Homo sapiens: one gene and its partners. The protein of the gene in region 2 purifies or fractionates together with the protein of the main gene of each other region. This does not show direct contact. Each region holds a gene or a part of one and is shown on either strand. Other genes may lie near its edges. The genes, in order: ISY1, USB1, CDC40 and DHX35.

The links.
Region 1: the proteins of USB1 (region 2) and ISY1 purify together in Homo sapiens (affinity purification with mass spectrometry, with the first as the bait; 3 studies listed by BioGRID). This does not show direct contact.
Region 3: the proteins of USB1 (region 2) and CDC40 purify together in Homo sapiens (affinity purification with mass spectrometry; 3 studies listed by BioGRID and IntAct, with this or other methods). This does not show direct contact.
Region 4: the proteins of USB1 (region 2) and DHX35 purify together in Homo sapiens (affinity purification with mass spectrometry; 3 studies listed by BioGRID and IntAct, with this or other methods). This does not show direct contact.

Annotation. Positions count from the first base shown.
Region 1 is NC_000003.12:129,137,058-129,144,083, forward strand, and holds part of ISY1 (pre-mRNA-splicing factor ISY1 homolog), read right to left. Parts: intron 3,429-7,026; coding exon 3,311-3,428; intron 140-3,310; coding exon of another isoform or gene 74-139; intron 1-73. Other genes in the region: ISY1-RAB43 protein, read right to left, coding at 3,311-3,428. UniProt on the Homo sapiens protein: Component of the spliceosome C complex required for the selective processing of microRNAs during embryonic stem cell differentiation. Required for the biogenesis of all miRNAs from the pri-miR-17-92 primary transcript except miR-92a.
Region 2 is NC_000016.10:57,997,367-58,004,406, reverse strand, and holds the start of USB1 (U6 snRNA phosphodiesterase 1), read right to left. Parts: upstream 3,001-7,040; 5' UTR 2,924-3,000; coding exon 2,826-2,923; intron 1,929-2,825; coding exon 1,762-1,928; intron 1-1,761. Other genes in the region: ZNF319 (zinc finger protein 319), read left to right, coding at 6,142-7,040. UniProt on the Homo sapiens protein: 3'-5' RNA exonuclease that trims the 3' end of oligo(U) and oligo(A) tracts of the pre-U6 small nuclear RNA (snRNA) molecule, leading to the formation of a mature U6 snRNA 3' end-terminated with a 2',3'-cyclic phosphate.
Region 3 is NC_000006.12:110,204,416-110,211,441, forward strand, and holds part of CDC40 (pre-mRNA-processing factor 17), read left to right. Parts: intron 1-3,090; coding exon 3,091-3,174; intron 3,175-4,668; coding exon 4,669-4,808; intron 4,809-6,291; coding exon 6,292-6,388; intron 6,389-7,026. UniProt on the Homo sapiens protein: Required for pre-mRNA splicing as component of the activated spliceosome. Plays an important role in embryonic brain development; this function does not require proline isomerization.
Region 4 is NC_000020.11:39,000,323-39,007,348, reverse strand, and holds part of DHX35 (probable ATP-dependent RNA helicase DHX35), read right to left. Parts: intron 5,620-7,026; coding exon 5,507-5,619; intron 4,578-5,506; coding exon 4,481-4,577; intron 3,601-4,480; coding exon 3,442-3,600; intron 1,204-3,441; coding exon 993-1,203; intron 1-992. UniProt on the Homo sapiens protein: May be involved in pre-mRNA splicing.

The DNA of each region.
Region 1 (7,026 bases), on a different chromosome or scaffold from region 2:
CTAATTTTTTGTATTTTTTTTTAGCAGAGACGGGGTTTCACCATGTTAGCCAGGATGGTCTTGATCTCCTGACCTTGTGATCCGCCCGCCTCAGCCTCCCAAAGTGCTGGGATTACAGGCATGAGCCACCGCACCTGGCCTAAAAAAATAAAAAAATTTTTAAGGCCGGAAAGGAACATACCAAACAGATAATAATGGTTATCAGTTACCTCTAGGAGGGGCACTGGGATGAGTGTAGAGGTAAGAGGACTTTAACTCTATCTGTGCTATTTGAATTATAACCAGTAAAATTCACTTATGCATTTTCTTTCTAAAACAAAAATCTTTTCAATAGATGACAAAAAAGGAAAAATAAATTTAAAAACCCAAAACTCTATCACTGGAATAAGCAAAAATATATTTAGAAAAATGTAAATGCAAAAAACCTAACATATAGAGCATAATCACAATATAGGAGCCACCCCAACACAACCCTTTAGAAACTGGAAGGAACAGCCAGGCGAGGTGGCTCACTCCTGTAATCCTAGCGCTTTGGGAGGCCGAGGTGGGCAGATCATGACATCAAGCGTTTGAGACCGGCCGGGAGCAGTGGGATGTTATCCCAGCACTTTGGGAGGCCGAGGCGGGCGGATCACGAGGTCAGGAGATAGAGACCATCCTGGCTAACACGGTGAAACCCCGTCTCTACTAAAAAAATACAAAAACTTTGCCGGGCGTGGTGGCGGTCACCTATAGTCCCAGCTACTCGGGAGGCTGAGGCAGGAGAATGGCGTAAACCCGGGAGGCAGAGCTTACAGCAGTGTGCCGAGATCGCATCACTGCACTCCAGCCTGGGCAACACAGCAAGACTCCATGTCAAAAAAAAAAAAAAAAAAAAAACTCGAGACCACCCTGGCCAACATAGGGAAACCCTGTCTCCACTAAAAATACAAATTAGTACTGGGCACAGTGGCTCACGCCTGTAATCCCAGCATTTTGGGAGACCAAGGCGGGCGGATCACAAGGTCAGGAGATTGAGACCATCCTGGTTAACATGGTGAAACCCCGTCTCTACTAAAAAAACACAAAAACTTTGCCGGGCATGGTGGCGGGCGCCTATAGTACCAGCTACTCAGGAGCCTGAGGCAGGAGAATGGCGTGAACCTGGGAGGCAGAGCTTGCAGCAGTAAGCCGAGATTGCGTCACTGTACTCCAGCCTGGGCAACAGAGCAAAACTCCATCTCAAAAAAAAAAGAGCTCGAGACCACCCTGGCACCAACACAGTGAAACCCTGTCTCTACTAAAAATACAAATTAGTACTGGTCACGGTGGCTCACGCCTGTAATCCCAGCACTTTGGGAAGCTGAGGCAGGTGGATCACGAGGTCAGGAGATCGAGACCATCCTGGCTAACACGGTGAAACCCCGTCTCTACTAAAAATACAAAAAAAAAATAAAATTAGCTGGGCATGGTGGCAGATGCCTGTAGTCCCAGCTACTCAGGAGGCTGAGGCAGGAGAATGGTGTGAACCCAGGAGGTGGAGCTTGCAGTGAGCCAAGATTGGGCCACTGTACTCCAGCCTTGGTGACAGAGCGAGACTCCATCTCAAAAACAAAAAAAAGATACAAATTAGCTGGGCATGGTGGCATGCGCCTGTAGTCCCAGCTACTTGGGAGGCTGAGGCAGGAGAATTACTTGAACCCGGGAGGCAGAGGTTGCAGTGAGCCGAGATTGCACAACTACACTCCAGCCTGCGCAACAGAGCAAGACTCCATCTCAAAAAAAAAAAAAGAAAGAAAGAAAGAAAGAAACTGGAGGGAACAATGCCCTAATGTATTAACAATCATCACATATGAGGTGTGAAAATGTGAGTGGTTTTTTTCTGATTTTCTGTATTTTATAACTTTTTTTTGTTTGAGATGGAGTCCTGCTCTGCTGCCCAGGCTGGAGCGCAGTGGGACGATCTCGGCTCACTGCAACCTCTGCCTCCCAGGTTCAAGTGATTCTCCTGCCTCAGCCTCCTGAGTAGCTGGGATTACAGGTGCCTGCCATATGCCCAGCTAATTTTTTTTGTATTTTTAGTAGAGACAGGGTTTCACCATGTTGGCCAGGCTGGTCTCGAACTCCTGACCTTGTGATTCTCCCGCCTCAGGCTCCCAAAGTGCTGGGATTACAGGCATGAGCCACTGCGCCTGGCTATAACTCCTCTGTAGTAAAAAATATATTCCTTCATAATTAATGGCACAATATTTAAACTCTGAATTATTTTTAAGGGATGGTAGTGGCCTATGCAAAACTAGCTGTGGAATAATGAATTTTAAAATAAGCAGCATTTAATAAAAATAGAACTATATTTTTTTTAAAATAGAAAAGCCAACTAGAAGGAGATATAACAAAATGCTAATAATGGTGAAAATACTGGCATCATTCTTCTCTGCCTCTCATACTTTTTCCTATGAAGTGTTGACTACCTTTCTAAAACACAAAATCAAAACCGACTAAAACTCCAGACTAACAGTTTCAAATTATATTCAGGAGGTTTGGCTGAAAGAAGGAGGAAAGGTGGGTGTGCCCTATTTGGATTCACACAAAAGTAGCTCCACTTTTCTCCTTTTTTTTTTTTGAGATGGAGTTTCGCTCTTGCTGTCCAGGCTGGAGTGCAATGGCACGATCTCGGCTCACCGCAACCTCCACCCCTCAGATTCAAGCAATTCTCCTGTCTCAGTCTCCTGAGTAGCTGGGAGTACAGGCATGCACCACCATGCCCAGCTAATTTTGTATGTTTAGTGGAGACGGGGTTTCTCCATGTTGGTCAAGCTGGTCTCTAACTCCCTACCTCAGGTGATCCGCCCACCTCAGCCTCCCAAAGTGCTGGGATTACAGGCATGAGCCACAGTGCTGGGCCTCACTTTTCTCCATTTTTACATTTAGGGTTTGGCCCAAGATTGTATTTGTTCTTTGGTTATCATTTGTTCAACTAATAAGTAACTGAAACATGACCTGATTCAATGAACTTCAGAGCCTGCCCCAATCGTTCTGGGAAACTTCAAATAGGGAAACTCCTTGTCCAGACTGACAGATTAGCACCTGCCAAAGGCAGAATCCTGCACCAGCCAATCCTGGGCACACTTTCCAGCCCCAATTGTATGGCATGGGCCTATGATTCTATCCCAGTTCTTAAGAATTCTCAGTTAAAATCTGGGAACAATAATTCCTACACTATAAGGCTGTTATGCAACTAAGAAAAAAAAGTAAGAGCAGTTAGCATATAGCATATCTACTCTTATGATTATTACCAATGAAAGGCTAAAACTGTCACAAACTTACTTACGTTCTTTTTCAAACAGCTCTCTAACACCAGGCAAATCTTTTGCTGCTCCAAAGTACTTGTAACCTCGGTTTCCTGGGACTTCTTTTCCTTCATGATCCAGCATTTTAGGGCCAACTTTCTTATTGGGAAGAAAAAAAGAGAAAATGGATCTGTTAGTTAGTTAGTTAGTTATTATTTATTTATTTATTTGAGGCGGAGTCTCGCTCTGTTGCCCATTTATTTATTTGAGGTGGAGTCTCGCTCTGTTGCCCAGGCTGGAGTGCAGTAGCACAATCTCACTGCAACCTCCACCTCCTGGGTTCAAGTGATTCTCCTGCCTCAGCCTCCTGAGTAGCTGGGATTACAGGTGCGTGCCACCACGCCTGGCTAATTTTTGTATTTTTAGTAGAGACGGGGTTTCACCATGTTGGTCAGGATGGTCTTGAACTCCTGACCTCATGATCCACCCACCTCGGCCTCCCAAAGTGCTGGGATTACAGGCGTGAGCCACTGCGCCTGGCAGATCTGATCTTTAAACCCACTATTTCCATGTTTGCAAATATATTTTAAGATAATAGCTGGATGCAGTGGCTCACACCTGTAATCCTAGCACTTTGGGAGGCCAAGGTAGGCGATCACTTCAGCTTAGGAGTTCAAGACCAGCCTGGGCAACATGGCAAAACCCTGTCTCTACTAAATATACAAAAATTAGCTGGGTGTGGTGAGACATGCCTGTAATCCCAGCTACTCAGGAGACTGGGGCAGGAAGAATTGCTTGAACCTGGGAGGTGGAGATTGCAGCGAGCCAAGATCGTGCCACTGTACTCCAGCCAGGGCTGGAGTAAATTAAATAAATAAATAAATAAATAAATAAATAAATAAATAAAAAACACTTATGGGCTGGGCACGGTGGCTCACACCTGTAATCCCAGCACTCTGGGACACCAAGGTGGGAAGATCACTTGAGGCCAGGAGTTCACGACCAGCATGGGCAACATGGCAAAACCCTGTCTCTACAAAAAAATGCAAAAATCAGCCAGGCATGGTGACACACACCTATCGTGCCACTGCATTCCAGCCTGGGTGACAGAGCAAGACCCTGTCTCAAAAAAAATAAATAAAACTAGGCCGGGCGCAGTGGCTCACGCCTGTAATCTCAGCACTTTGGGAGGCCGAGGTGGGCGGATCACGAGGTCAGGAGACCGAGACCATCCTGGCTAACATGGTGAAACCCCGTCTCTACTATAAATACAAAAAATTAGCTAGGCATGGTGGTGGGCGCCTGTAGTCCCAGCTACTCAGGAGGCTAAGGCAGGAGAACGGCATGAACCTGGGAGGCGGAGCTTGCAGTGAGCTGATATCACACCACTGCACTCCAGCCTGGGTGACAGAGCAAGACTCCGTCTCAAAAAAATAAAATAAAATAATTAAAAAATAAATAAATAAATAAAGATAAAAAACACGATGCTAAGTGACAAAACCTTTAAAAAGATTACAAACAACCTATATGACAATTAGTGGAAAACAAATGAAATATATCCAGAAGATACAACTATATCTATTAAAACTGATGATTTGCTGGGTGCGGTGGCTCACATCTGTAATCCCAGCACTTTGTGAGACCAAGGCGGGAAGATCACCTGAGGTCAGGAGTTCAAGACCAGCCTGGCCAACATGGTAAAATCCCATCTCTACTAAAAATACAAAAATTAGCAGGGTACGGTGGTGCACATCTGTAATTCCAGCTACTTGGGAGGCTGGAGCACAAGAATCACTTGAACCTGGGAGGCGGAGGTTAGGGTGAGCTGAGATCGCACGCCACTGCACTCCAGCCTGGACGACAGAGCGAGACTCTGTCTCGAAAAAAAAAAAAAAAAAGACGATTTGACAACTACATGTAGTATGTGACCCCAGATCAGGTCCTGTACTGCAGGGGAAATGCTACCAAGGACATTATTGGGAAAACTGATGAAATGCCACATGGATTCAATTATTGTAGCCAAGTTAAATTTCTTAAACTTGATAGCTCTACCATGGTTACATAAGAGAATATTCTTCTTAGGAAATACACATATATTAAAGGGTAAAGAAGCATGATGTATTGTAACCTACCTTTCAAGTGGTTCACAAAAAATAAATCTCAAGGTACACAAAGAAAATAAAGCAAATACAAGCAAAATGTTAAATACTGGTAAATCTGTATAAAGGGTATATAAAAGTTCTCTGTATATTTTTGCAATGCTCTTTGAGTTAAAAAACATTTTTTTAAATCATACAATTTGGCTGAGCACAGCGGCTCATGCCTGTAATCCCAGTACTTTGGGAGGCTGAGGCAGGATGACTGATTGACTCCAGGAGCTCAAGACCAGCCTGGGCAACATAATGGGACACCATTTCTACAAAAAATTTAAAAATTAGCTGGGCATGGCCAGGCACGGTAGCTCACACCTATAATCCCAGCACTTTGGGGAGCCAAGGCAGGTGGATCACCTGAGGTAGGGAGTTCGAGACCAGCCTGGCCAACATGGTGAAACCCTGTCTCTACTAAAAATACAAAAATTAGCTGGGCGTGGTGGTGGGCACCTGTAATCCCAGCTACTCTGGAGGCTGAGGCATGAGAATCGCTTGAACCCAGGAGGGGGAGGTTGCAGTGAGTCGAAATCACACTCCTGCACTCCAGCCTGGGTGACAGAGCGAGACTCCGTCGCAAAAACAAAAATTAGCTGAGCATGGTGGCACACACCTGTCATCTCAGCTGCTCAGGAGGCTGAGGTAAAAGGATTACTTGCACCTGGAGTCAAGGCTGCAGTGAGCCATGATCGTGCCACTGCACTCCAGCCTGGGGTGACAGAGTAAAATCTTGTCACAAAAACTAAGAGGCTGGGTGCAGTGGCTCACATCTGTAATTCCAGCAGTTTGGGAGACCAAGGCGGACAGATCACCAGAGGTCAGGAGTTCGAGACCAGCCTGGCCAACATGGTCAAACCCCAACTCTACTAAAATATAAAAATTAGCCAGGTGTGGTGGCGCACACCTATAATCTCAGCTGCTCTGGAGGCTGGGGCACAAGAATTGCTTGAACCCAGGAGGCAGAGGTTGCAGTGAGCCAAGATCGCACCACTGCACTCCAGCCTGGGTGATGAAGCGAGACTCTGTCTCAAAAAAAAAAAAAAAACTAAACTAGAATAAAATAAAACAATATACATATCTATCATATGATTATTTATTGACACGAAACTGTATTCCTTGTACAGTTTAGAGAATAAAGCACATAGAATATTAATGAATTTCTATAATGTATATACTAATATGTATTTTTTATATCTTATAATTTTTATATTTATATTTTTTCTCTGCACAAAAATATGTACTGTTTATATAATGAAAGCTACCATTTTGAAAAGAAAAACAAAATCCAGAACCAAAATTGTACATACAGTGAGTATGGTTTCAATTATGACATTCATACAAAAACAACGGAAGGAGAAAAAAGATAAAGAGCATATTCAAGTGGCTGCACTTATGTAATGGGATTGTGACTGAGTGTTGTTCTGCTTCTTTGTACTTTTCTGAACTTAGTGGTAATATATTACTTTTATATGTAGAAAATAAAAATAAAATTATTAAGCATTAAAAATCTCTGGAAAAAATATATAAAAATATTAATAGTGTTGAATTTGGGTGGTGGAACTTAACATTTCACATACGAATTTTTTCATACCTGAGACCACTTTTCT
Region 2 (7,040 bases):
GAGAAGAACAAAGTTGGAGGACTGAAACTACCCAACTTCGAGACTTAACTATGTAAAGTTACAGCAATCAAAACAGTTCACCAATGGTATTGGTGAACAAATAGATGAATGGAACAGAATTGAGAACCCAGAAATAGACCCACATCAATACAGTCAACCGATCTTTGGCAAAGGAGCAAAAGCAATACAATGTGAAAAAGAGAGTCTTTTCAACCAATGGTGCTGGAATAACTGGATATCCATATATAAGAAAAGGAATCTAGACACAGACCTTCCACCTTTCACAAAAATTAACTCAAAATGGACACAGAACTAAATGTAAAATGCAAAACTGTAAGATTCCTGAAAGATAACATAGGAGAAAAATGTAGATGATCTTGGGTTTGGTGACAACTTTTTAGATATGACACCAAAGGCAAGATCCATGAAAGAAATAATTGATAAGCTGGACTTCATTAAACTTAAAAACTTCTGCTCTGTGAAGGACAACGTCAAGAGAATGAAAAGACAAGCGACTGGCTGGGAAAAAAATGTATTTGCAAAAGACGTATCTGATAAAGGACTATTATTTCAAATATAAAGAACTCTTAAAACTCAATATTTTAAGATCCAATATTAGACCCACATCATAATATTAAATAAACAAAAATGATTAAAATTTATTAATAAACAAAAATGATTAATATTAATAAACAAAAATGATTAAAAAGTGGGCAAAAGACCTTAACAGACACCTCACTGAGGAAGATACACAGATGGCAAAAAGCATTGAAAAGATGATCTGGATCATATGTCATCAGGGAAATGCAAATTAACAGACAACAGTGACATATTGCTACACACCTATTAGAATGGCTAAACTCCAGAACACTGTCAATACCAAATGCAACTCCTTTGGGCAAAAACCAAGGAATGTAATTGCTGGATTTTATGATAAGAGTATGTTTAGTTTTGTAAGAAGCCACCAAACTGTCTTATTTGAGATGGAGTCTCACTCTGTCACCCAGGCTGGAGTGCAGTGGAGCGATCTTGGCACACCACAGTCTCTACCTCCCAGGGTCAGTCAATCCGCCTACCTCAGCCTCTCAAGTAGTGGGAACCATAGGCGTGTGCCACCACACCTGGCTAATTTTTTTGTATTTTTGGTAGAAACAGGGTTTCTACCTGTTGCCGAGGCTGGTCTCAAACACCTGGGCTCAAGTGATCTGCCTGCCTCCGCTTCCCAAAGTGCTGGGACTATAGGTGTGAGCCACCTGGCCTAGCCAGTGCTACCCCCATTTTAGATTTGAAGAAACTGAAGCTCTGAGAAGTCTAGTATCTTATAAAGGGCACCCAGAGTAGTGGGCAGCGGAGTGAGGTCTGACTCTGAAGCCTGGGCATTTTTTGTCTTCCACCTGCTGATCAGAGCTAGGGTGGGATTTGAACCTTGCACACCCAGCGTACCCAGGGCCCTCTCAGAAATAAAGTGCCTGGCATGACCTTGACACCCTGCTCCAGATTCTCCTTTGGTCACCTCCTCGTGAACAGGGAGAATATTATACCCAGAGGTAATACACATTTTAGGCTACGAATTCAAAACCAAGATGACAGAAAAATCCCCAGTTCTTGAAACCTGCTCTTTCTCTGCTAAGTCAATGACTTTCCCACCACCAGTGTTAGAGGTTTCTGGTTTCTTCCTTCTAGTTGGGGCCAGATTCTGCCCTTCATGAGGCACCTACGGGTCTATGGGTCTTGGCAACTTGCCTTTCACACATCACTCACATGGTACATAGACGTGGGTGGCCCAGTTGCCTCGCTCGTGGGGGAAGGTGCGCACCCGTCCCCCGTGTTTTGTGCTGTCATCTTCAGGCCCCTCCTCGGTGCCCGGGAACATGTTCAGCACACTGTCAGGTACTGGAAATCTCTGCCTGGGAAGGGGGCTCTGGCCACTGCAAAAGAAAAAAAGAAAAATGAGTACATTTATCCTGTTAGCATTCTCTACCTTTGTATATACCACAAAAGTTGTAACCCCTTATATATGGTGGCTCTGAGTGTGTGTTTCCAGCCTGGTGCTGGAAGCAGCTTCTAGATAGCGAAATTGTTTCTCCAGTATTGTCTCATTGGGGTCTCCAACTCTGGGGCACAAGGTCCCCATGGGAAACAACAGGGCATGCAACAATGTGGTTCAGGGGTCACATTTCCAAGCTGGACAGGCTGCAGCTGGAGTAGCACTTTCTAGCTCTATGACCTTGGGCAAGTCATGTCCCCTTTCTGGGCCTCAAATGCCTCATCTGAAAGTATATGTCTACCTGATAGAGCAATTGTGGGATCAACTGAGCTACTGCTTGTAAAGCACTCAGCAAAGATAAGGCCTAGCATTTAAGAATCTAAGCCCCAGGAAGTAAGGCCGACGGTTTTGTTCACCACTGAATTACCAGACCCCAGCCTGGCAGGGAGTGGGTGCTCAGTGAATATTTACTGGATGAATGAAAAGGCTCTCCCTACGCTTTAGCAAGTATTACTATCGCAATTGTATTCAAATCAGGAAACGGACCTAGGATGGTACAGGGATGTGTGCCAGGCGATAGAGTGGGCCAGCGCGAGGCTGGACCCGAACCCAGGTCTGGCCTCCCAACTTGGCCCTAGCCAGGTGGGGCCACTCTGGAGCTTTGTCTGGGGTGGGGGGGAGGGGTATATCTTCTGGATCCTCCTTTCTTCCTGCGTCCCCTTTTCCTTCCCAGAGCCGCCCCGCATCCTCCCTCCCCACTCCACCCCCAGACATTCGGGTCCCGTCTGGCTCTAGGGTGAATGCGCGCGCCCTCCGGAGAGACTTCCTCACTCCTCACCGACGGTGGCTCCCATCCCCCGGCCTGGTCCGCATCCCGTCCTCGGACTCATCCTCGGAGCCGCTGCTGCTGTAGCCCACCAGGGGCGCCGCGCTCATGGGGCCTCATCCAAGACCACCAGAGCAGGTCCACCAGCAACCTCAACCGGCACCCGGAGTTCCGCTGTGCCGGAAGCGCCCTCCCAGGGGCGGGGCCTGGGCTGGCACCGCCTCGGGGCGGAGCCGGGAGGGGCGGAACCCGGCAGGACAGTGGTGAAGATTCAGCCCACCGACTCCAAGCTGTCTGCCGGCTGCGCACGCGGATCTGGTCACCTGCAGCCTCCCGGCACCCCGCTGGGACCTCCCCAGCCTTCGTGTACCCATTTCATATATCGCTCAGGGCCCTCACCTTTCTGCCCGCTGCTGTCTGCAGCCACCCGGGACCAGACATACCAGACACGACAGTCCCGGGTCAGCGCACTAGACCCAGCGGAGACCCCTGCCTGCCCCGAGCCCGGCCAGGATCAGAGGTCCTGGAGCCCCCTCCTCAAACCAGCCCAAAGTCCAAGCCCCTAAAAGCCAAGCTGAGCAGTTAGGGGCGGATCAATTGTGGCAGACCAGAGCCTCTAGGAGGCCCCTCCTCTCCTGCGCAGAGCCGGGCCGAGGGCGGTCACCCGGAGCCCCCTCCCCTAAGCCCGAGCGGGGTGGCCGGAAGCAGAGCGCCCTTCCTCGGTTAGTCGAGGCGCCCAGGCCTGGCGACTCGAAAACCGCCCGGAGCACCCGGCTTGTCCGACCTGGCCCGGCCACGGGGTCCCCGGCAGGGGGCGGCCTCGCTCCGCGCCGCCCGCTCCTCCCGCATTGGCCGCCGCCGCCCGGGATGCCGCTCCTCCCCCGGCCCCGCCTCCCTGGCCCCCGCGCCGCCCGCCCGTCCGCCCGTCTCCGCAAGGCCATCGGTCCGTCCGCCCGCCCTCCCGGCGCTCCTCGCCCCGGCCCCGCTACTCCGGCAGCGCGCGTCGCTTCCTCCGTTCCGGCCGCCGCTAGCCCGTCCCCCGCCCCCGGTCCGGCCGCAGCCGCTACGCGAGGCCGGGGATTGGCAGCGCGCGTAGGCCGCGCCGCCGCGGATGGAGCCGGAATAAAGGGGCGGCCGAGAGAGCAGCTGGTCGCCGCTCGCCCCGCGCCTGCCCTGCAGGCGGCCTGGAGCAGGTGAGCGGCGGGGCGCCCGGGGCCGCATCTGGGGGCCACCCCCGCGCCCGCCGCACCCCTTCCTCTGCCGGCCCGGCCGCCCCCCCGCGCCCCTCCGCCGCGACCTAGCGGCCTCTTGAGCTTCTGGGCGGCCCAGGCCGGGCCTCGAGGCGCAGCCGCTTCCTGGGCCCGGCCTGTAGCCCTGGGGCCTTTCTCCAGCCCGGCCGCCCTCGGGGCTCGCCCTCGGGTCGCAGCGGCCGGGCCATCCCGGACGAGGGCTGACAGGACGCAGCCCAGCTGGGCCTGCAGGCAGGGCCGGCGGGAGGTGATCGGCTTTCATTCGGTTTCTCAGGGAGGAAGAAGAGACGGGGTGGGGCGCAGGTGGGGGGCCTCCCCTGCCTCTCCTTGCCTCCTCTCTCCCCTTTGCGGAGTGATCACAGAGGCTTCCTGGCTGCACCTTGCTGCAGGAGGGCCAGGGTGGGCAGGGGGTGCTGCAGACCAAGCCAGGGGACACTGTCTGACAGCCATTCATGCCAGAAAAAGCAAACAAAACAGTGGGTTGGCACAGCGGACCTACAGGCGCTCAGAGAAGCCCACCTTCCCCCTCTCTGTCCCGAGAAGGCTTAGAGTGGTACCTGCTTGCTCAAGCAACCTGCTGCCTCCACCCAGAGCAGCCGCTCCTCTCCTCCCTCCCTTCCGGAAGATGCTGAGGATGACAGCTTTTAGCCTGACTCTTACATTTCTTTGGCAGAGCAGTTAGAGGCCAGACTGTCCTGTGAAGGCTTCTCCTTCCTTCTTCCTCTGCTCAGGAGAAAACTTACAAACTTTTAAATGTAAGAGGCAGATGAGCTGGGAACCTGGAAGTGGGTTGCATCTGACTCTGAAAGTTCCTCCCTCTCGCTGGCATTACCTCATGCTGCCACAAAGTGGTGAGTTAGAGATTTGCCTGGGCTGGGTGGGCTTTACCTTCCAACAATTACCCAGAACTTTATAGGCTTGGAGTAAGGGAATGGAGTTGTCTCTAGAGAGGTGATGAGAAATGCTCTGTGGTTAGCATGCTGCATCCTGCATTGCCAAGGCAGACCAGGGCAGTTTCTTACATTTTCCTGCAGGCCTTGACACTATGAGATTCAGAGGATTTAGGACTTTGTGTGTGTGTGTGTGTGTGTGTGTGTGTGTGTGAGTTCTGGGAGAGAACCAGAGTGAGGAAGTTCTGCTGTGTGGACATCAAGCCTGGGTGGTTCTGTGGCCCTCTCATCTAGCCCCCATCACCTATGGGCTCTGGTTCCTGTAGGGCCACCCATCCTGTCACGCGGAGAGAGAATGGGCCTGTGGTCAGGGATAGTTGAAGGGGTGTGGTCAGTCCCTCATAGGTGAGAGTTTTTGAAATGGTCCTTGGTTCCACGTAGTTGTCCTAAATATTGACTGTCAGAGGCCATTTGCCACTGGGCTCTCAGACCTGGGAGGTCTGGCCTCCTTAGCTCTAAGTGGTGTGGCCCGTATTAAGACTCAGGGTAGCAACAGGAGAGGAGCTGCGGGCCTTAAGGAGGATTCTGTATTGTAGGCAGATAACCCCGGACTCTCACCTGTGAGTCTCAGCTAAAGGGTTGGCAGGAAGCTGGAGGGGACTTGTGGAGGCTGGGATGTCCTGGCCCAGGGGCGGGGCACTGAGGTGGGTGGGGGTGGAGGCCGCTGCCATTTCCTCTGCCTGGAGGAGCTGAGCTGGCTGCAGACCTCTCTGATTGCCTAAGAAGGGAGGAGTCCTGCAGCCCTGAGCACCTCTGCCTTCCCCGATGTGTGGTTTGTGATGGTGTGGTGAGTGCGGGCAGGACAGGGAGAAGGCCCAGGAAACTGCTGCTTGTTCCTTCCTCGAGCTCATACTTTCTCTCTTCTCTACAGAACGGATCACTGGGGAAGGCAGAGTCTCCCCGGCACTGCTGGGACCCTCCCTTGAAGAGCCCCCATGTCCTGTAGGCAGAGCCTTGTAGTCTGTCCGCTTGGTTACTGACTCGGGCTGTCTGACCAGCCCCTCTTCTGTGCCTTGTCTGAGGTCCTTGTCCATCTCTGTGATTGGGCAGCTTCTCTCTCTGGATTGGGTCACGTGAAGCGGGAAACTGAAGCCATTACTCTCCAAACCCTGTTTCATCTTCCCAAGCATGTCGGAAAGCTGGCAACAGCCGCCACAGACGCAGCCGCAGCAGCCACAGCCACCGCAGCCTCAGCACCATGCAGAGCCACCGCCAGCCCTGGCAGAGCACACGCTGCCTCCGGGCACGGCGGAGAACCCCCTGGGCTGTGCCGTCTATGGCATCCTCCTGCAGCCAGACCCCGGCCTGCAGCCCCCACAACACGCACCCCTGCAGGCAGCAGGAGAGCCAGGCCCCAAATGTGGCGTGTGTGGTCACGACCTGGCGCACCTGTCCAGTCCGCATGAGCACCAGTGTCTGGCGGGCCATGACCGCTCATTCCAGTGCACACAGTGTCTCAAGATCTTCCACCAGGCCACTGACCTGCTGGAGCACCAGTGCGTGCAGGCTGAGCAGAAGCCCTTCGTCTGTGGGGTCTGCAAGATGGGCTTCTCACTACTCACCTCACTGGCACAGCACCACAGCTCCCACAGTGGCCTGGTGAAGTGTTCCATCTGTGAAAAGACCTACAAGCCAGCTGAGGCAGCGGAGCCAGCCACCACAGCCGCCCCGTCGCTTCCCGCAGCACCCGCGCCTTCCACTGTCACCCCTGCTGAACAGGCCGACAAGCCCTACAGCTGCCCCATCTGCCAAAAGCCCTTCAAGCACCTGTCGGAGCTCTCTCGGCATGAGCGGATCCACACCGGTGAGAAGCCCTACAAGTGCACGCTGTGTGACAAAAGCTTCAGCCAGTCGTCGCACCTGGTGCACCACAAGCGCACGCACAGCTCCGAGCGGCCCTACAAGTGCGCAGTCTGCGAGAAGACCTTCAAGCACCGCTCTCACCTGGTGCGCCACATGTACGCGCACTCGGGCGAGCACCACCTGTTCCGCTGCAACGTGTGCGAGTTGCATTTCAAGGAGTCGTC
Region 3 (7,026 bases), on a different chromosome or scaffold from region 2:
TCACTATTAAAAATGTGATGTATGTTATGCTACAAAGTGCATTTTAAAACATGGTAGTGAATATTTTTGTACATAAAACTTTACATGTTCTTATATTATTTTATACTATTTTCTTAAATGAGTTCCCAAACGTAGGTAAAAGAATATGTGTTTTAAAAGCTTTTGGTATATATTATCAAATTGCTTTCCAAAAGAATTCTCTCAACCTACTCTACCACCACAGTGTATAAAAGTCCTATTTCTCTTTTTTTTTTTTTTTTTTTTTGAGACAGGATCTCGCTCTGTCACTCAGGCCGTGCAGTTGTGGGATCTCTGCTCACTGCAACCTCTACCTCTGGGGTTCAGGCAATTCTCATGCCTCAGCCTCCTGAGTAGCTGGAATTACAGGCATGAACGACCACACATAGCTAATGTTTTTTTTTGTATTTTTCGTAGAGATGGGGTTTTACCATATTGGCCAGACTTGTCTCAAAACTCCTGGCCTCAAGTAATCTGCCTTCCTTGGCCTCCCAAAGTGCTGGGATTACAGGCCTGAGCCACGATGCCCGGCCCTATTTCTCTTCATCAAAGATCCATATGATTGTTTTTCCTTTGTTTACTTGATAATCAAAGTATTATATTTCTTTATTGCAACTTGATTTTTCCGGACTACTAGTGAGGTCGAAGGTTTTTTCATATATTTATGACCATTCTTTTGCAAATTGTTTATAGTCTCTTTTCATTTGCCTAATGGAATTAGTTTTAATAATTATTATTAGTTTAATAATCTTAAGGGTATAATAATAAAATCAATATTATGGCCATTTCAAATAAGACTGCCGAAGGGAAGAAAGTAGACATTAATTCCATTAAAAAGATAAAAGGGAAAACAAGCTTCAGGAAGATAGATAAGAATATTTAAGAAATGTAGAAATATTCACTTATTTGAGACACAAGATAGTGAGAAAACAAATTGGACTGAAATTTAGTAGTGTTAGAATTAGATCTTGTTCTATCACTGGCTGATTTGTAGTAAGACATAAGGCCAAATATTTAACTCTTATTTGTAAAAGGAAAATAATACTGTTTTCTAATCACCTGGGGTGGAAGGCAGTAGTGGGGATGGTGGTATGGCAGTAAAGATTTTTACCACAGAGGATGTGGAGCAAGAGGAAAGCATAACTTATTTTTCTGAGTAACAAGACAGTGGCCAGATGAGTTGGGGAATGGTGCTTACACAGAGACAAGGACCAGGGATACCTCTTCCCTCTCTGTCTACTCCTTCACCCTTCCAGACGCGTCATGAAATGCTATTTATGTAGACGTTAAGTCTCCTTTCAAAGTAGAAATTTACATTCTAGCTAGATACGTTTTTTATTATTGAAATGGAAACTTTTAACATGGTATGAGCTTATAAAAGTCTCATTTTTTGGAAAAAGTTATGTGCAGAACACTTCTGTACATCAAAGAGATTAAAGACAAAATAACTCATGGGATTTGAACCTGTGATTTCAGAGATTCTACTCCAAAGGCTGATTTTCTGCCACCAAGCTCTCTCCTCTGGTTAAGAACATATTTTAATGCTGAAAAAAACTATATGCAAATCAGCTAATAGCCAGGTGGTTGGTTCTGTTATAGCATATCATGAGGGTGAGTTCAGCACTTACATCCTTAGCTTGTTTGAAAAGCATGCTTCATGATGAATCTTTTTCTGTTCCCCAAAAGAAGTTCCCTATATTCTGTTTTTTTGTGTGTGTGTGTGAGATGGAGTCTCGCTCTGTCGCCCAGGCTGGAGTGCAGTGGCGCGATCTCAGCTCACTGCAAGCTACACCTCCCCGGTTCACACCATTCTCCTGCCTCAGCCTCCCGAGTAGCTGGGACTACTTTGGATGAAAAATGAAAATAATAAGTCTATCCTCTAGGATGTGCCCTTTAGAAAAAATGGGCTTAGTACTTTTTTATGTATTCTATTATCGTACACATGAGTTGTAGGCCATAAAGTGATCAGTGATTTAGCACTCTTGTGAATATACCAGACTAATGTTACCAAACATTTACTGTGCTAGCACACCCATTTGAGAAAAAAACTGATTTGAGCTAACTTAGGTAGACTTTCTTTCCTTAAATTCCCATGGACCACTGAAGACCACATTTATATGTAGCTACATACTTTATAATTAGTTTAAAAAGCACATTCGTATGCTGGTAGATATCCTTCCTTCTCTTAAGGAAATATAAAGAATGATTGATGAAATAGAAATATATTAAGATTGGGAAGGAAGACTGTCCTTACTGCAAATGGTATTTTCAAAATAATAGCTAGATTTTATGTAATCTTCTTACCCTTTTTTATTTAATAATTTACATAATTTGATAAACTTAGCCCTGCAATATCTATTACCAAGAAGAAAAGGAAAATGGTTTCTAGATTTCCAAGTGCATCATGTACATGTATTTTCAAGCTCTTAGAATATTTAAAACTAAAGTTTGATGTGTTGGCCAGAGAGGCTCTTAGTAATGTAATGTCAGTATGCAAAATTCATCCTATAAGAAACATATTATGCTGGAGTCTAGCCTGAGCTTTGGGTTCTAAATAGAAAAATATAGCTTTGGGTTCTAAATAGAAATATAGCTCAGGGGCCGGGAGTGGTGGCTCACACCTGTAATGCCAGCACTTTGGGAGGCCAAGGCGGTGGATCATTTAAGGTCAGGAGTTCAAGATCAGCTTGGCCAACATGGTGAAACCCCATCTCTCCAAAAAAATACAAAAGTTAGCTAGGGGTAATGACGCATGCCTGTAATCCCAGCTACTCTGGAGGCTGAGGCAGGAGAATTGCTTGAGCCTGGAAGGCGGAGGTTGCAGTGAGCCGAGATTACACCACTGCACTCCAGCCTGGGTGACAGGGTGAGACCCTATCTCAAAAAAAAAAAAAAAAAAAAAAAGGAAGCAATATAGCTCAGGGCAGAATGATTGGTCCTGATTGGTCCTGAGTTAGAGATCATTTTTGACATCTGGGAAAGAAAATGTGAAATGTGTATATTTGTATTATAATAATAAAATGAATTTAAACAGCAAAATGGAGTTAATAATTTTCACTTTTTTGCTTTCAGGTTATGCATTAGACCCTTCATTAGATAATCATCAAGTGTCTGCTAAATATATTGGTTCTGTAGAAGAAGCTGAAAAAAATCAAGGTAATTTATTTGAAACATTTGATATCATATATACCTACACATCTATAATTAGTGTCTTGCAGAGTGACTTTAATTAGACAGTAAAAAATAGTATTTAGCGCTTTTTTTTTTAAAGTTGAAACAATGGAGCGATACAGTTTAGAGCAATATAGTTCAGAAATGTTACAGTTTAGAGCTTGCTTTTGCCGCTTACTAGTTGTGGAATCTTGTAGGGAAAATAATGATACATATCTCTTTGAGTTACTTTGAGTACTTGGCACCATGCCAACCCTGTAGAAATCACTCAATAAATTACAACTAATGTATAGATAATTTTGGCAATTGATTTCTCAACATTAATGTCAAGCTTCATTTTAACAGAGTAGAAATACTTTATTTGGTAAGTCTGTGAAGATTGTCTTTGAAGAGTTGCTTTGAAGGTTGAGTTTGAATATGTGTTGTATGTATGCTTGTATTCATATTCATTTTGTACTTACAATAAGACAAAACATCATACGCTAAACGCTAACTTGTCACAAGCCTCATCAGTCCATTAGAATATTATCCATAAAATGCAATTTAAAAAGTAATTTGCTGGTTGGTTGCATGGGACATTTGTGCTTAGTAGCTATAGATCCTATGTGATCTGGCTGGTCTCTGTATATGAGCTAGATTATTGTTAAAATAGAATTTTAACAGGCTTTTGCTATAAAACATAGCCTGAATTAATATAGGTAGACATTTCTTCTTTAAGCTAGACCTCTGCAAGTCCCATCTAAAGGTAGCTAGATTCTTAGTTAACTTGTGACTATGATTCCACAAACCTTTCTTTTTCCAAGTTAATGACTATACACAGTATGCCACCTCCTACTAATCAAATCAAAATCTCAACCAGAAACACCCTCCTTCTCCTTTTCTTTTACTGTTAACGTTAATGATATTAGAGGTCAAGATGAGACTGAAATCACTTGGAAGGAATACCATTTCTGGTGAAACCTTGTTTGATTTACATTTTTGCATTACAAGTGAAGTGAAGATAAGTTATTAAGTACTTACAGTAATTTAGTTTAATTTAGTTTTAAAATGATAAATTACAGTTTATTCTTGCTTCCAAATGTCACTTTATTATTACTTAGCAATAATGAGTTTCTGAGTTTTTTCCAGAAAGTCGTACAAATCCACTGACACAGCTTTTTGATTCAATAAAAGGCTTGTGCGCCATTGTAGGAGTACATATTTGGGTCTCTTCTTTAAGTATACAGTATTAGAATTTGCAGAATATTGAATTAGTTTTAAGTGTCTTTGCCCAGAAGGTTGAATCCCTTTTTCTGTAGCATGAGTCAGCGTATATGGTAGATTCATGTAGATTGTTTTTTAATAACTCTGGGGTCACTTGAACAATCATCTTTCTTTAACCATATAAAATAAAATTAAACATATGTTCATATTTCTTTAGAAAATGTACATCTTTGTAATCTCTCAGTTTTTTTTTTAATTTTTTTTTTGTTAACGTAGGTTTAACTGTATTTGAAACTGGTCAGAAGAAAACAGAAAAGAGGAAAAAGTTTAAAGAAAATGATGCATCCAATATTGATGGTTTTTTGGGACCATGGGCAAAATATGTGGATGAAAAAGATGTAGCCAAACCTTCAGAAGTAAGCTTTGATGTTTTTAATTGTCAATTCAGGTATACGCTGTATCTCTATGAAGGATATCTACATTAATAAACTTGAGATTTCTTTAGAGAACCAAATGACTCATCAAAATTTTTCTGCCTTTAGTTGATTGAAAATATACAATAAAATTTATTTGTTTTTCTTTGGGATATTTTTATTTACCTTTTCTGCTGATTTGTTTTCTCTCATGCTTTTTTATTAAAATACAATATTGAACAATTTTCATAAAGATTTCCTTGATATTGCTATTAAGCTGCCATGGTAGCTACTCTTCTGATACTAGACATTCAGATAGTAACTACAAAATCAGCCTTCTGTGACACTAGAATTGATTATAAATTTTATTGATTTATGAATTTATTTAAAATTTTCAACAAATTTTATCTCTATATATATCTTAAAAACTACTATAAAGTTTGTAAAGTAAATGCTCTGCCGTTCCCTTCCTCACCTCCTAATCTCACTGTCTCCATGAGCCAGAGAGTGTTCTAGGTCCCAGGCATACAGCAGTGGACAAGATCAAGAAAATCATGACCTCATGAAGCTTATATTCTAGCTGTTACTTACATCCAGTAAATCCATGTTTATAGTAATAGAAATAAACAGGTGATATCTAAGATGAATAAACTTATTCTACTATTTTTTATTTTAGATTTTATCTGTTGACTTGTTATTATAGATAGAGATTTACTACTACCCCATCTTCTGTCCCCAGCTCCTCCCAAAAAAATTGTGTCACAAATGTATAGCTATCACTTATATCCTTAGGAGTATGTAAAAACAATTAACTGAAAAACAACATTATGTGCTAAAATTCAGTTTCCATTCTGAAACTAGATTTTCTGATTGCCTTGTCTTTTTACTTGTATAACTAGTATAACATGTTAAAATTTATTTCTAGGTGTCACAGAAGGATAAGTTTTGAAAACTGATTTTATATAGTTGAAAAGTATTATCTAGTATCCATTATGTATTTAGTACCATTTCATAATTTGTGGAAGAGGTAATCAGTCTCTGCTTATAGAAGACTTGAGCTTGGCCGGGCCTGTAAGCCCAGCACTTTGGGAGGCCGAGGCGGGCGCATTGCCAGAGCTCAGGAGTTCGAGACCAGCCTGGGCAACACAGTAAAACCCTGTCTCTACTAAAACAGAAAAAATTAGCCAGGCGTGGTAGTGTGCACCGAGTAGTCCCAGCTACTCGGGAGGCTGAGGCAGGAGAATTGCTTGAACTAGGAAGAGGGAGGTTGCAGTGAGCAGAGATTCGCGCCACTGCACTCCAGCCTGGGCGACAGTGCGAGACTCATCTCAGAAAAAAAAAAAAAAAAAAAAAGTGTTGAGCTTGTTATCCTGGGAACATACTCGGACCAGATATGTAGAAGTCATTATAAAGAATTTATAACCAACTTTAGGTATAATGAGGTTCTAGAACATTCATTTTAAATTTCACTCCTTAATTTTCTTAGGAAGAGCAAAAAGAATTGGATGAAATCACAGCAAAGAGGCAGAAAAAAGGAAAACAGGAAGAAGAGAAACCTGGGGAGGAGAAGACAATCTTACATGGTAACATATTTTTTGTACATCTTCATTTTTATGAAAAACCTTCATATTTACTCTGTTCGCTGTTCATACAATATCAATTACCCTTACTATCAGCTGTAATAAAATCATTATGTTAAGTATAATTGTGTTGGACAATTTGTATCCCAAGGAAATTACAGCAGACTTCTGTATACTGATAAAGGAGAAAAAATAGCATGATTAATGATAGCCACAGATAATTTTTTTCCAAGTGTGAATGAATTTTATTAAATGGTAGATAAAAAGAAACTTGAATAGTCCACAATCTATTCTTTCGTAAGATAAAGTTGACTCTTTTGGTGTATTAATAGTGCCCCAGTCATTTTAAATGTTTTTAATGAAGCCAAATACTCAGGTATCCTCACAGTTCATAATCGTTATTCAGCTATATTCAGAATAAACTTGGATTTTCGTGTGAAAAGATGGAGCTTAAGGCTCTCATACTTATTTTGACTTGTAGAAGGAAATGCATATTCACCAAAACAAATCGTAAGTATTCTAGAATGTACCTGTTAATAATTAGTTATATTTAGGAAAATACATAGTGATTATCTAAAACTGTAAAGAATAGCTTAGCATTTACAGTGTTGCTTATTCTAATGTTATATTACATCAGATAT
Region 4 (7,026 bases), on a different chromosome or scaffold from region 2:
CCAGACTGTCAGTCACTGTGGCCACAGACCATGGTTACTAGCCCCAGATCTCCAAGCTCTAGCACCGTGGCCAGCATACAGCAGGTGCTCTGCAAACATCTGCTAAAAGAAAGATCAACATCAAAGACTGAACAAGGACAATAATAACCAGAAAGGAAAAGAAGAGACAAATGGCAGAGCTAAAACCCCTGGACCTTCTTTAGGGGCAGCCACACCAGAAGAAACAAAACAAAATAAAAAACCCTGGGCCTGGTTAAGTGAATGCAGATGGATACTGGATAAAGAAGAGAATTAACAATGACTTGGAAATTGAGTCTGGACAACTGGGGAAAATGTCAGCAGCATTCCCCACAGAAGAGAAGTGCAGAGAAAGAGCAGCTCTGGGTCCATCACTGTCTATAGGTAAGGCTGTCTTCAAGCTGGATAGAAAGCTCCAGAAAGGCTGAGACAGTATTAAAATTGCCTTCTGTTCCCTCAGAGCCTAGCATGATGCACAGCACAGAGGAGGAGCTCACCAACTATTTGTTTTCTATGAATGAGTCTCCGGACAGACCTTCCATTTTCACTTGGCAAAGATGCTCTGAACCAGAAGTAAAAGGGGAACCCAATGTGAGGCTCCGCAAGACTCAGGGATCTTGGAATACAAAAACAGCACATTAAGTCAAGAAAGAAAGGCAAGAAAGACAGGCTCCAGGACACACAGCCCACACCCTAGGGACAAATGGCTACACAGGCCTGTGCCCAGATGTTAGGTTAGAACAGGATAGCAAATAAGCAGTCACTCACAGGCCAGCTTTGGCCAATGGGGACTAGTAACAAAGAAACACCATATTTAGAGTGAGGAAAGCAGTGGGGATCTGATTACACAGGGCCTTGTGAGGAAGGCCTGTATTTTATGTTAAGTTCTACCATTAGGAGTAAACATTTGCTACACTCTGTTGCCCAGGCTGACTATAAGAAAGTCAAAAACCCTTAGGGAAAGCCACACTAACCTGTATAAAGGCGATAACATTTTCCCGAGCGACTACGACCACCACGTCCTGCTCGCTGATTAGCTGATGCCTGGGAGACTGGCACCACCACCAAGCATTCAATAGCTGTCCTGGGATTGTAGGCTCGGAGTTTCACAAAGCCACAGTCGATCACATACACAATGCCGCTGATTGTGATAGAGGTTTCTGCCACATTGGTGGCCACTATCACCTACGTTCCCCACAGAAAGAAGAATAAAACTCATTTTATTCTTTTTGCTTTTAACAAACTCGTAAAAATCCTAAAAGATTTAACATTTCCAACATTGCAGAATCTGTGAGAGGCAGTTTAATATACTAGAAAGACTGTGAGTTTCCAAGTCAGGGGGTGCCCTGGGTTTGAATTCTCCCTAATCATGTGACCCTGGACAAGTTACTCAACCTCCTGAACCTGTTTCCTCATCTACATAATAAGATTTACCACCTCCCCTAGGGCTACTGAAGGGACTATATACAATTAATATATAAAGTGATCAGAGCCTAGCATTTGTTAGTTTTTCCCTTTGGCATAACCAAAGTAAATCACCCTCCATCTTGCGCAGGTATAGTCATTTATTCATTCATATCATGATTACTTTCTGAGGGTGTGCACTTTGCCAAGCACTGTTCAAGGTGCTGGGATGTAGGATAAACAAGACAGACAAGGCCCCTGCTCTGCCAGAGTTTACATTCTAGTTTGAGTGTTTAGGGTGAAGACATGCTGAACATAAACAAGAAGATAATTTCAGAGAACAACAAATACTATAAAGAAAATATTAACACAATGAGGCAATATGATATGATGTAGTATATAACATGTATATTATATATTATTGTAATAATAGGGCATGCTACTTTACTTTTGTTGGCCAGGCAGAGCCTCTGTGAAAGATTTTGAGCAGAGACCTGAGTAACAAGCAGCAGCCAACCCTATAGAGATCCAAGAATAAGAAACAGTTCAAAGGAAGGAGAAACAGCCAGTGCAGCCAAAATACAAAGTACAAGATGAGGTTGCAGAGGGAGGCAGATATGCAATCATATGTGGTCTCTGGGCCACCATGAGGTATTTGAATTTTATTCCCAGTACATTGGGAGCTGCCCCTGAAGGGTTTAAGTAGCAGGGGACACATATATATAGCAGTTAGAACTTTTTTCAGGCACTTTACATTTTATAAATCATTTTATAAAAATTATTTTATAAATGATCATTTTATAAAATAATCTTTCTAATATTTTTATGTAGTTGGGATTAAGATGTTATGCTATAAAACCACCTATCTGAAAGTTATTATTATTTACGTTTTACAGCTGCAAAAACTCAGATTCGAGGTTAAGTCAGTTGTCCCAAGGCACATAGTAGCTCAGGGGCAGAATCCAGGTCTCCTGATTGGCTGGCTGCAATTAATGTTTGACAGGGCAGACTCATGTTGCTCCATCCCAATGGTCAAGGGGCTGAGCACCCTCTTCCAGGTGGTCTGAAATTGGGAGTGGATCCTCAGACCATCCCTCACCTGCTCTATTCTCTGCCATCTGTTGATAAATAGCTACTACAGTAAAAGCTGTCCTCGGGCTGGTTCTGTGCAGTCCTCATCTAATGAAAGGAAAAGGCAGAGTCAGGCCCAGGTGGACTGGCTGCCTGCCAGCTCCTTCAAACCAATGCTTTCCACCACACCCTTCCTCACTCTCACTTCAAGGCTAAACATTTTTAAGCCACACCTTGAATTAATTGATTTAAACTTGGCCCTTTAAAATAGGCAAGCTGATACTTAAAACAAATTATTTAGAAACCATGTGTACCAATTTTTCTATTGCTCCTGACTGACCTCAATCCCCCTAAACAATCCCTTAAGCCAAAGTAAGCATGTGTCGTGGGAAATATTAGGAAGGCAGAAGAGAAGAAAAGAGAAGTCACCTGATCTGATAACTACTGTCAAAGTGATCCTTCAGTGGGACAGGTTTAGAATCTTCACAACAGGCCGGGCACGGTGGCTGACGCCTGTAATCCCAGCACTTTGGGAGGCCAAGGTGGGCGGATCACAAGGTCAGGAGATCGAGACCATCCTGGCTAACTTAGTGAAACCCCGTCTCTACTAAAAATACAAAAAAAAATTAGCCGGGTGTGGTGGCGGGCGCCTGTAGTCCCAGCTACTCAGGAGGCTGAGGCAGGAGAATGGCGTGAACCCGGGAGGCAGAGCTTGCAGTGAGCTGAGATCGCGCCACTGCACTCCAGCCTGGGCAACAGAGCGAGACTCCATCTCAAAAAAAAAAGAAATCTTCACAATGTATTATTTATTGTGTGCTTTTAGATCTACTACACAGAAATATGGACCTAGAAGTCTGCCTTGTGTTTAGCAAGTTTCAAAACAAGTAAAGGAGCATCATTATGATTATAGACGGCTGCCAACACCCTTGGTCATCAGGATAGTCTCACCTTTCTGACACTGCGTGACACCCTTTCAAACACTTTCATTTGCTCAAAGGAAGGCAGTCCTGCATACATGGGGAGAACTCGGAGGTGTCTCTTCATCCCAGTGCGAGCTAGTGCTCGAGCCTGCTCGATGAGCATCGACACAACAGTTTCTACCTCTTCCTAAAGACGTTGAACCAGGAACCAAAGAAACCGAGATCAATTTAAAGCATGCTATTTTATCATACTGAAAGAAAATAAAAGTTGGGATCTGGACTTTAATTTTGGTCAGATTCAAGAATTTCAGTGCCGTCATGTTCCACTCTGGGATGGTATTTAATTAAATGCTAATACACAATGATGACAATGGGTGAAATTTTGCAACTACACTATTAGTTACTAAAAACTCGGTATGATCTGCAATGAATGGAAGAGTTCCCAATAAATAAAAACGATGACTATTTTACTCAGCATACATATACGGTGTCAAACAAGCATCTCATGCATATAGACAAGTTGCAGCATATAAAATCACTGTAAGCTTTCTCCAAAAAAGATTACTGAACCATGGAAAGTGTTTGGCAGTGGAAAAGATTACAGTTGGAGGGCAGGTCTGAATAGTGCTGGCCACCGTCAGCGAGCACTTGGGTCTGTTCAGTTGTTTTACCAGTAATATGGCCACTTATCACCTCCAGGATGAGCTGTAAAGGTGTCACTGGAAAAAGAGGTACACAGCAGCAACATGTGTGCAGGACATGGACCTAATGTAGTATCCAATTCTGGCAAACAAAATAGCCCTCACTCAACTACCTAGTTTATTTTGGAATCAGCTAATACATTTAAAAAAACATTTAACCCTCTGCAGACAGAACAGGCAGGGGCTAACGAGTCCCTGACAATCTAGATGGTAGATGAATGACATCAAATCAATTTTCTACACAATTATGGAACCACAAAATACAACAAAACATGAAATACATGACTGAGTAAAGTAACAAGGCTCTGTATTACTTTTGGTGCTGTCTTAACATGTCTATTCATCAGAGAAGTACAGTGGCATTACCTGGCCAGTAAGAAATGCTAAAACGTCTCCGTCTCCCTCTGTCTGGTGAATTTTCACCACAGTTTCGACAGTTGATTTGATATAATCTGGAACAGGACTGAAAAGACAAATGGGATGAATTCATCACTAGAATATGCTCATTAATTACAGATCAATTACCCTAATAATCTGGCAGCAAAGCTCATCAAAGTGAGTTTGGGCCTGCCCAGTAGGTAATTAGTACAGGATAAACAAAATAAATATTCATTTTTTTCAAATCTAATATTCAAGAATAATCCATAATTATATGTCAACTATGATTTTTAGCTTTATTTGGAAAGAAATAACATGATATACCCATACAAATAGATGTGCTATCTTTAGTATGCAAAGACATCAGACCAGTGAAAATCGGAAGCTGTGGTCCCAGTGCTGAAGCCCACGCTCTTCCCAGCCCATTTTCCCTCCTAACCAATAGCAGCATCTATGGGTCGGCTGGATGGCCCTGATGGATGAGCTCTCCAACAAAACGATTCAGAAATCAAGTCCACGACTCTGGATTTATCAGCCACTGGAACAGGCTCCTGGTCTTTTTTTGTCCAGTGACTAGTACAGGAATTAGGATGGCCCCTTCCTTGTCCAAGTAGGCTACTCCTAAAAATGCCAACTGGGCCTTCTCGCTAGGGATGTAGAGAACTGAGAGCCAAATGATTCAAATCACCAATACTGCCCCTGCTGACAGGCAGCCTTGTAAACCCCAGTTCTGAAAACTATCAAGCTTCCCTCCCCAAAACCTTTCACCACTTTTGCTCTCTCTGGCTGAGCTACTGGCCACAGACTTACGGAAACTTGCATGTCAGTGTGAACAGTTTAAACTAAATTCAGCAGTGATCCGGAGCAGGGTAAGAACATTCTAGACCAATGACTAGGGACACAAAACATGCTCCTCCCCATCCTTTAGAGTTGTGAGCAAATGCAGTTCTGACATTCTACATCAGAGGCTGAGTTTTCTAAACACCATCATCCAGAATTCAAGCATCATCAAACCTTTGTAGATAAAAGATATCCACCGGAAATGTTCTCCCTTCCACTGTAAGGATCACACATGTATCCCTTGCTGGATCACTGGTTTCATTTTGATTAAAGAAATCCCGGAATTTCTAAAAAGAAAAAAATTAATTCTTCATTTCTCTTAGAAAAAAAGGTTCGTAGCGATTCATGGAAAGAAAAAATAATATAAAACTTGCCAAAGACAGGTGAGTAGCAAGATTATATATGTGCAATACAGATTATGGGTTGCAAAATACATTTTTTAAATTCACATTTTTCTAACTGTAATTGTGGGGAATCACATTTCAATGACAGTGTCTTTACTAAAGTTTTAATAAAAATAATAAAGGTTAGATTTCAAAACTGCATTCAGCATAGCATCTGAGTTAACATGTAGCTTTAGTATTATTTATATTATTCCTATCCTCTGTATTTCATTTAAGCAAAAATTAGGTCAAAGGTGTGACTCAAGTTCAGTACAGGTTAGATGAGGTTGGTGGGTAACTCTATCTGGAAAACACAGATATGATCATTTGATAGGAAACTTTTCCTTCTGTGAACAGTAGGTGTGTTTCCGGCCCCATTGTTACTGGTTTTAGGCCACTTGATGGCAGGGATAGTGTCTTCTCCATCTTTACACGCCCTACAGTAGTGAGTGCGAGGCTTTGTATGGGGTAGGCCATCAATCATGTACTTCCCCAACACTCGTGCAGTACCCTGTTGGGAGAAGTGTCTCTTGGCAGTTTCTGCCAAACAGGTGTCCACATCCTATTTAATGGTACTTGACCACCACTTGCAGCCCACAAGGAGACCTGTCTTGAGGGCTCCAGCCAATGATGGGGGAAGGAAACGCCACCAAAGATCCTCTCTTGGGGAATGTGACCCTAAGGTACAAAGAGAAGCTGAGACTGAGAAGAGCTAAGTGACCATGCAGGCAGGCAAGTGAGCACCAGATGGGAAGCAGCTGGTGCCCACTGCAGAGGGGGCATGGATATCCCGTCGGGTGGAGTGCTCCATTATTTGAATCTGGGTGCCCTTTCCATTCCCCACCTCTACTCATTTCCCTGAGGCCTGGCTACATAACTACAAAGCTTGTCTTTATTTCCCTATGTACCTTTACAAAACATGCCCATCCTGCTCCAGGAAACCCAGGAGCCCAGGAGCTGTGCTAACGAATGGCATCAAACGCTAAGTGAAGGGGCTCTGAGGGGTACTTTTAAAAGAGTAAACTGGATTTAACCACAAAATACAGGGATGTTATATATTAACCTCAAAATTGAGAAGAATAAGCACAGACATCAAAGTGCCTCATGTCAACAAAACTATGTTTTGCTATGCAGAATTCCACACAGTACTCCTGTTCACTTTCTTTTGGGTAAATTCCCTTCAAGTTGCTTCAGCCTTCCTGCATCCCTATGACATGCACAGCACAGGTACACTAGAAGTGACATACAAACAAGTGGGAACAGACACCCCATGCCCCAAAAGAGTAAACAGTTCACAGAAGGCAGACGTGC